2 separate regions of the Homo sapiens genome follow, and region 1 is linked to region 2. The links come from fine-mapping of genetic effects on gene expression. A gene starts in region 2. The other region holds a variant in brackets. All regions are shown on one strand. Distances are from middle to middle. Region 1 holds the start of LOC107984881 (a long non-coding RNA gene). Region 2 holds the start of ZDHHC1 (zDHHC palmitoyltransferase 1).

Region 1 (4,391 bases), 460 kb after region 2:
TCTTCTGCCGCATTCCTCTTGCTGAGATGGTGAAAATAATAATCAATAAAAAGTGAGGGAACTCAGAGACCGGTGCCGGTGCAGGTCCTCCATATGCTGAGCGCCAGTCTCCTGGGCCCACTTTTCTTTCTCTATACTTTGTCTCTGTGTCTTATTTCTTTTCTCAGTCTCTCATCCCACCTGATGAAATATACCCACAGGTGTGGAGGGGCAGGCCACCCCTACACTGATGAATTAATAAAGTTGCGTATATTGGCGAGGCACACCGGCTCACTTCTATAATCCCGGCACTTTGGGAGGCCGAGGCGGGAGGATTGTTTAAGCCCAGGAGTTCAAGACCAGCCTGAGCAACATAGCAAGATCCTGTCTCTAAAGAAAAAGAAAGGGAGTATATTTATACATGGAATACCACTCCACGATAAAAGAAAAGAACTACTGGTTGAATTTCAAAAACACAATTGACAGAAGCCAATCGCAAGTTATTTCATTTATATAATTAGTACTATCATATTAATTTATAATTTGTATTATTTCATTCATATTCTAGAAAATGCAAACTATAGCAACAGAAAGCAACTCGATGGTTGCTTAGGAGCATGGATCAGGACGATTGACTGCAAAAGGGCTTGAGGGAATTTTGGAGTGATAGAAATATTGTAAAACTCCACGTGGTGGTGTTTGCATGTCTTATACATTTACTCAACGTGATCAAACTGCACACTGAAAATGGGTGAGTTTAGGCCAAGCACAGTGGTTCACATCTGCCTGTAATCCTACCAATTTGGGAGGCCTAGATGGAAAGATCACTTGATCCTAGGAGTTGGAGACCAGCTGGGTAACCTAGTGAGACTTCGCCTCTACCAAAAATAAAAAATAAAAAAATTTAAGTTCTCCAGCCATGGTGGCATGTGCCTGTGGTCCTGGCTACTTGGGAGGCTGAGGTGGGGGATGGCTTGAGCCCAGGAGGTGGACGCTGCAGTGAGCTGTGATTGTGCCACTGCATTCCAGCCTAGGTGACAGAACGAGACCTTGCCTCAGAAAAAAAAAAAAAAAAAGGGTGGGGGGAGGTAAATTTAATTGTAAGTTATTTCACTATAAAGCTGTTAAAAAATAACTATTAAGTCTAAACAGTAATCCTGGGAATGTATATTGGGAAACTATATTGTACCTCTGCAGAACTGAAAAACATACAGAGACAGGCATGCAGCCGGTGTTCAATAAATGCTTTCAGAATGTAGTGGAAACATTATGCACCAGTGTTTATTGAAAGGAAAGTCTCCCTGCTCTCTCAAGTTCAAGTCAGCCCAGGTTTAACATTATCCTTGTCTGCCACCTGGTGGCCCAAATGGGCAAAGTGGGTGTCCTGGTCTTTCGCTCCAAACTTCAAAAAGCTGTAGTTGGGCTTAAAGGCCGTGGATGGAAAGAAGGGAGACTTTCGCCCTGGAAATCCGGTGCCCCGAGAGGCAAGTTGGTCAGAGGTAGGGGTATAAGGGGATTATTAGGGTCTATGGGACTAGAATACAGCCTCTTAATGACAGAGGGAATATACTTTGGTGAAACCAAGAGGCCGATTGAACACAATTGGCCACCTTTGCACACTGAGATAAAATATGAGGAGGATTTTTGCGAAGCCAGGAAGGAGAAAAGTTTAGGGACAACAATGAGGTAAGTAGGAAAATAATCATATGGACACACATGGTGAGTTCGGGGATGCTCAGGGGGCTGAAAGGTTGGCAAGGGAATTCTGAAAGGCCAGAGAACATCTCCCTGGGTGGAGAGGCTCCTGGGAGCCAGGGAACAGGAATCTCTTTTCTTAGATATGCCTGGACCTTTGGACCCTCAATCCCACTTCCGGGGCACACCCCACAGGTAAACATCTTCGCGAGTGTGCTACGATCCTGTGAGTAGGGGCCTTACAGTGTCTGTAGAACCACTGAGAAGAAGAGCAACCTTCAGGAGACG[G/T]CCACTGAGGAATCGGCTTGGCTTTCCTGGCAACTGTACAGGAGGCCCAGGCTCAGGGGCCTGTGGACAAGCCCAGTCTTGCTTCTTACAAAAATGGGTTGAGTCACCTCTGCAGGACACAGATAGGCGAGGAGGTGGCTTGTTTTTGTTTGTTTGTTTTTGTTTTTGTTTTTAGATTGAGTCTTGCTCTGTCACCCAGGCTGGAGTATAGTGGCACAATCTCAGCTTACTATGATCTCCGCCTCCAGGGTTCAAGCAATTCTCCTGGCTCAGCCTCCCAAGTAGCTGGGATTACAGGGATGTGCCACCACGCTTGGCTAATTTTTGTGTTTAGTAAAGACAGGGTTTCACCTTGTTGGCCAGGCTGGTCTCGAAATCCTGACCTCAGGTGATCCACCTGGCTTGGCCTCCCAAAGTGCTAGGATTACAGGCATGAACCACCGCACCTGGCCTGTAAAGGTGGCTTGTTTTAAATGTCAATGATAGACGACATTTAGTGGGACAAAAGGGGAGTATAGGAACTTTTACATTTTCAGTAGTTGGTGACCTTGGTGGCTGAAATCTGGGAGCTCTAAGTGCTATGGTTTAAATGTTTGTATTGCCTCAAAAATTTGTATGGTGAAACCTAATCCCCAATGTGATGGTGTCAAGAGGTGGGGACTTCAGGAGGTGAAGGGGATTAGTGTCCTTACAAAAGAGGCCAGATGGAGCTTGTTTTCCCTTTCCTCCAGGGGAGCACACAATGAGAGGCTGCCATCTATTAACCAGAGAACAAGTCCTTGCCAGACAGCAAATCTGCTGACACCTTGATCCTGGACTTCTAAGCCTCTATAACTGTAAGCAATACATTTCTGTCACATGAAGGCACCCAGTTTATAACATCAATCTGTAAAATTTTTTTTTAAGTTTTATATCAGTATAGGAAACTTTTTTTTTTGAGACAGGGTCTTGCTGTATTGCCCAGGCTGGAGTGTAGTGGCACAATCACGACTCACTGCAGCTCTGACCTCCCAGGCTCAAGTGATCTGCCCGCCTCAGCCTACTGAGTAACTGAGACTACAGGTGCGTGCCACCACATCCAGCCAATTTTTGAATTTTTTTTTTGTAGAGATGGCGTTTCTCCAAGCTGCCTAGGCTAGCGTCAAAGTCCTGGGCTCAAGTTCAGGAGGCCCACCTCGGCATCCAAAAGTGCGGGGATTATGGGCATGAGCCACCGTGCCTGGCCGAAACCGGTAGTATTTATTTATTTTTTTTTTTGAGACAGACCCTCGCTCTGTCACCCAGACTGGAGTGCAGTAGTGCGATCTTGGCTCACTGCAACCTCCGCTTCCTGAGTTCAAGTGATTCTTGTGTCTCAGCCTCCTGAATATGTAGGATTATAGGTGTGCACCACCAAGCCTAGCTAATTTTTGTATTTTTAGTAGAGACAGGGGTTCACCGTGTTGGCTAGGCTGGTCTCAAACTCTGGGCCAGCTACTCAGCTACTCAGGAGGCTAAGGCAGAAGGAATTCGACGCTGCATGAGCTATGATCCCGCCTTTGCACTCTAGTCTAGGCAACAAAGCAAGACCCAGTCTCCAGAAAAAACATAGTGTGACTGCTGTGGGGATCAGGGAGGGAGGAAGTGATGGAAAATTGCCTAACAGAGAAAATCAGTCCTCTTAATCGATAAAGAATTTCTACAAACAAAGAATATGTCATGTATACAACAGAAAAAGTAGCATAAGAATGTGTTCAGAATAAGCACTACAAATCAGTGTCTCTCAAATAAACGAAGAGATCTTTAAGTCATTCATAGTAAGAGAAATGCACATTGAATTCTCACTGTGATGTCAACCACTCATTTTGTGGTATCCCAACAAGCAAGATAATCAGACGTTACATATTTTCTATCAGAAGTATGCAGCACCACATGTGAAGTGGTCCTCCAAAAAACAAAACAAAATAAAACCTAAAACCCAAATCTGATTATGCCTCTAGAATATAAATACAAGTTTACACAGTAGACAGGGGATAGAAGAACTGTTAAAAGACACCACCCGGATGCAATCAGCAAAACCTAAATGGTGGGATCCTCTCCAGAACAAATAAACTGGTTTCTTCCACATGCAACAAAATTTAGAAAGAAAATTAAAGAGAGGCAGATGGTAAATCTGAAGACTGAAAGAGATTCAAGAAACACATAAAAATGACAGATAATAATAAGTGTTGGTAAGGATATGGAAAACTTGGAACTTTCATACATTGCCAGGGGAAAGGAAAATGGTGCAGCTGCTTTGGAAAACAGTCTGGCAGTTTTTCAGGGGATTAAACATGGAGTTGCCATATGACTCAGCAATTCCACTCCTAACTATAAAGCCAAGACAATTGGTGGGGCATGGAGGCTCACGCCTGTAATCCAAGCACTTTAAGAAGTCAAGGTGGGTGGAT
Region 2 (4,391 bases):
TTTGTGTGTGACAGAGTCTCACTCTGTCACTCAGGCTGGAGTAGAGTGGTGCGATCTCGGGTCACTGCAACCTCTGCCTCCTGGGTTCAAGCCATTCTCTTGCCTCAGCCTCCCGAGTAGCTGGGACTACAGGCACATGCCATCACGCCTGGCTTACTTTGTACTTTTAGTGGAGATGGGGTTTCACCGTGTTAGCCAGGATGGTCTCGATCTCCTGACCTCATGATCCACCTGCCTTGGCCTCCCAAAGTGTTGGGATTACAGGTGTGAGCCACTGAGACCAGCTGAGAGATAAGATCTTACTTTCACCCAGGCTGGAGTGCAGTGGCATGATCGTAATTCACTGCAATCTTGAACTCCCGAACTCAAGTGATTCTTTTCTCCTGCCCCAGCCTCGTGAGTAGCTGGGACTATAGGCACAGGCCACCAGGCCCAGCTATTTTTTTTCATCTTTTGTAGAGATGGGAGTCTCTCTATGTATCCCAGGCTGGTCTCAAACTCCTGGCTTCAAGTGATTTTCCTGCCTCAGCCTCCTTAAAGTGCTGGGATTACAGGTGTGAGCCACTGCATCCAGCCTCATCCTTCACCTTGATTTCTGGGTCATGATCTCTGTTTGACCCGAAGTTTTCCAATTCCAGATAAGAGTTAAGTAGTCAGCTTGTACTCTGAAGCCAGAATAGCATTGATATTTATCTCACATTGAGTTTGAGTTTATCAGTCTTGAAAACAAGAATTTAAGTAATAGGTTATGTCACTTGCACAAGGACCCACACACCTGTCATGTGACAGAGAAGGAGTAGTTATGTTGCCTAATAAAACATACAATAAGTATGCTTGTGACTTATACATTTTAGAGATAAGGATGTTTTCTTTCCCTATCTGTCATATCTGCCTTGGAGATGCGCACAGGACAGATAGCAGAAGACAAAGTGTCTTCCTGTCTTTTGAGAAAGCCTGAGCTCATAGAAGATTCCATTCTGAGTGTCCACAAGGAGAAGAGGAGAGGGGACTTTTAGGGAAACCAAGTTAGCAGGGAAGTCTCCCAGGTAGAGAAAGGGAAGGGAGGCTGCAGGCCATGGAGCAGAGGAAGCAGGTGTCTGTCCCTGGCAGCCCCAGGGAGAGGCAGGGGCCTCAGGCAGGGATGGCCTCATAGAGCCCAAACCTGAAAATCTTTGTGGACTGGAGCAATGGTTGTGGCCTCAGTACCAGACAAAACCCTGACCAGAGAGTTTTTTGCTTATTTGTTTTTGATTGTTGTTTTTTGCTATAGGAAAACATGAGTCCTTTGGAATTACCTAGCTAAAAGGAGTACAGTGGAGACTGAGACTGAATTTCCCGGCCGGGCAGGGGCTCACGCCTGTAATCCTAGCACTTTTGGAGGCTGAGGTGGGCGGGTCGCTTGAGTTCAGGAGTTCGAAACCAGCCTGGGCAACATGGCAAAACCACGCCTCTACAAAAAAATGCGAAAATTAGTCGGGCGTGGTGGTGTTCGCCTGTAGTCCTAGCTACTCTGGAGGCTGAGGCGGGAGGATCGCCTGAGCCCAGGAGTTCGAGGCTGCAGAGAGCCGTGATCGTGCCACTGCACTCCAGCCTGGGTAACAGAGACCAGTTTAAAAAATAGAAAAAGACTGAATTTCCCATCAGCCTGGAAGATTGGGGCTTGATTTTTGCTTGATTTAAAGGCAATAAATAAATGAGATATTTTGTGCTGCTTATTTTAAGCTCTTACGCTTCTCGCTTTATATTCTGGGGTACCTGCATTTTTAGTGGTGTAATTTATTTGTCTAGATCTGTTTGCCTCTTAACCTGTAAGCTCCCGGAAGGGTCGGGATATCATGGATGTTCCAGCACATACGCTCATTGAAGTGTGCAGGTTGACTGGGGTTGGGGGAGGTCTCTTCTTGAGAGCGGTGGTCTCAGGATAGAAACTGGAAGGGGGCGCTTTTGAGATGTTAGGATTTCGGGGAGACAAGCTGTGACTCGGGAGTAGGGAAAAGCGGATTTTCTAGACGAAAGGTTAGGAAGAATCTGGGAATGGGCCGACTGGGGCACCAAGAGGGTCCCTGGCAAGCCCCGCCCTGGCCGGGGGACCGGCGCGGAGTGACGCAGCGCGGTTTGGCCGCTGTGGGGCGCCGTAGCCCGCGCCGTTGTCAGGGGAACGGGCCCAGCGCCGGACGAGGCCCAGCCAGTCTGGGTCTGGCCTGGCCGCCCCTCCAGCCTGCTGGAGCCGGAGCCGGAGCCGGAGCCGGAGCCGGAGCCGGAGCCAGAGCCAGAGCTCGAGGACTCACCGGCCCAGTCTCCGTCCGGGATGGGGCCCCGCTCCCGGGCGCGTTGCCGCCCAGTCCCGGGGACCGTCCCTACCGCGAGGGTCTGAGGCGCGGCTGCCCCGGGGAGGGTGGAAGGCCAGGCGTGGGGCCCGAACCTCTGGCTGACTTTGGCAGGGCCCATCTGGCACGGCCTCCGCGGCGCGCAGGTGAGGAGTCCCCGCCCGGTTTCTCACCTCGGAGCCTGGCTTGAGCCACGGGGTAGCGGATGCTGCCGCCTGGCCGGCTTTGGGCTCGCTTCCGCCTGGAGCCGGTGGCCTGAGTTCCAGGGCCCCGGCAGAGCGCGGGGCTTCCTTTTAGCATGCATCAAGTTCACAGATCTTCCTTGAGCGCTTACTCTTTGCCAGGCTCTGTGCCAGGCGTGGGCACAGAGGACTCCCAACAGACGTGGTCTGTCTCCAGAACCCAGAGCATTAAGGAAGGGGGCTGGGAAGCGGATGTCATACATGACTAAAGTGATTTCAGGTCGGGTTAGGCTCTCTGGTATTGAAATGGAGGGGTTGGTCATGGAGGGTCTGTTTTAAAAGGAAACCATGGGAAGAGTTTTAGTTTTTTCTTTGAGACGGAGTTTCGCTCTTGTCACCCAGGCTGGATGGAGCGCAGTGGCACGACTCGGGTCATTGCAACCTCCGCCTCCCGGGTTCAAGCCATTCTGCTGCCTCAGCCTCTGGAGTAGCTGGGATTACAGGCGCCCGCCGCCACGCCCGGCTAAGTTTTATATTTTTAGTAGGGACGGGGTTTCACCATGTTGGCCAGGCTGTTCTCGAACTCCTGACCTCAGGTGATCCACCCGCCTCGGCCTCCGAAAGCGTTGGGATTACAGGTGTGAGCCACCGTTCCCAGCCAATTTTTTATTTTTTTGAGACAAGGTCTCCCTTTGTCACCCAGGCTGGAGTGCTGTGGTGTGAACATGGGTCACCGCAGGCTCCGGCTCCCGGGCTCAAGCGATCCTCCCGCCTCAGCCTCCCAAGTAGCTGAGACTACAGATACCCGCCACCACGCTCAGCTAATTTTTTAAGGTTTTGGTAGAGATGAGGTCTTACTATTTTGCCCAGGCTGGTCTCGAGCTCCTGGTCTCAAGGGATCCTCTTGCCTCAGCCTCCCAAAGTGCTGGGATTACAGGTGTGAGCCACTGCAAGCGGCAGAAGAGTTTTTTATTTTTTGTTTATTTTTATTTTTATTTTCCAGATGGAGTCTCGCTCTGTCACCCAGGCTGGACTGCAATGGCACAATCTCGGCTCACTGCAACCTCCACCTCCCGGGTTCAAGCGATTCTCCTGCCTCAGCCCCCCAAGTCTGGGATTACAGGCGCCTGCCACCACACCCAGCTAATTTTTGTATTTTTAGTAGAAACGGGGTTTCAACATGTTGGCCAGGCTGGTCTTGAACTCCTGACCTCAGGTGATCCAGCCACCTTGGCCTCCCAAAGAAGAGTTTGGATGAGTTTCACGTTTGAAAAGCTCACTTCACTCTGGCTGCTGAGCAGCATGGTTGTGACAGACATACCGGGAAGTCAGTTGAGGGCCATCCTAGTTCTGCCAATCTAGCTGTGCCTCCTAAAATAACTCATTTAGTGTCTCTGAGCCTCAGTGTCCTCATGATGGGAGTGGGTGTTCTGTATGTTTTTTATGAGGAAGTGAGAGGCCAGTCACATCTGAAATCAGTGACTACAGGGATCTACAAGAACAGTTGGAAATGATAGGACCTTCCTTAGAGCTCTATGAGGATTGAATGAGTGAATTCCACTGAAACAGTGCCTGGCACAGAATAAGTGCATTCTAAATGCTGGTGTTGGTTATTATCATGCAAACACTGTAGGAGAGCGATGCTGGAGGTTTGGATTGGGGTAATGACAGCAGAGATGGTAAAAAAGTGGCTTGACTTCCTTTACTGAAAGAGAGCTGGGTTCAGACACGGGTGAGGGGTGGTCTCTGCTTTTGTGGAACTGGTGGTTCACTGTGGGAGACGGGTTTGTAAACAGATAATCACCATGAGATGCAGTAAAAGCAACAGTGGTGCTTAATTAGCCAGATTGTTTTGTTTTGTTTTTGTTTTTCTTTCTTTGTT

What was found. PIP is the estimated chance that this variant, and not a neighbour inherited with it, causes the effect. A credible set is the group of variants that fine-mapping cannot tell apart.
Region 1: its variant is the best candidate, but not a certain one, in a credible set for the expression of ZDHHC1 in thyroid (GTEx, PIP 0.84).

Annotation. Positions count from the first base shown.
Region 1 is chr16:66,951,210-66,955,600 of GRCh38, reverse strand. LOC107984881 (a long non-coding RNA gene) reads left to right here and starts at 1,402. Exons shown (of 4, transcript XR_007065090.1): 1 at 1,402-1,478; 2 at 2,694-2,798. RefSeq lists silencers at 3,749-3,949, 3,949-4,149. The variant G/T (reference allele first, on the strand shown) is at 1,963.
Region 2 is chr16:67,414,253-67,418,643 of GRCh38, reverse strand. ZDHHC1 (zDHHC palmitoyltransferase 1) reads left to right here and starts at 2,167. Exons shown (of 12, transcript NM_001323627.2): 1 at 2,167-2,473. LOC124903702 (a long non-coding RNA gene) reads right to left here and starts at 2,741. Exons shown (of 2, transcript XR_007065093.1): 1 at 2,501-2,741. RefSeq lists an enhancer at 1,621-2,278 and a silencer at 2,111-2,500.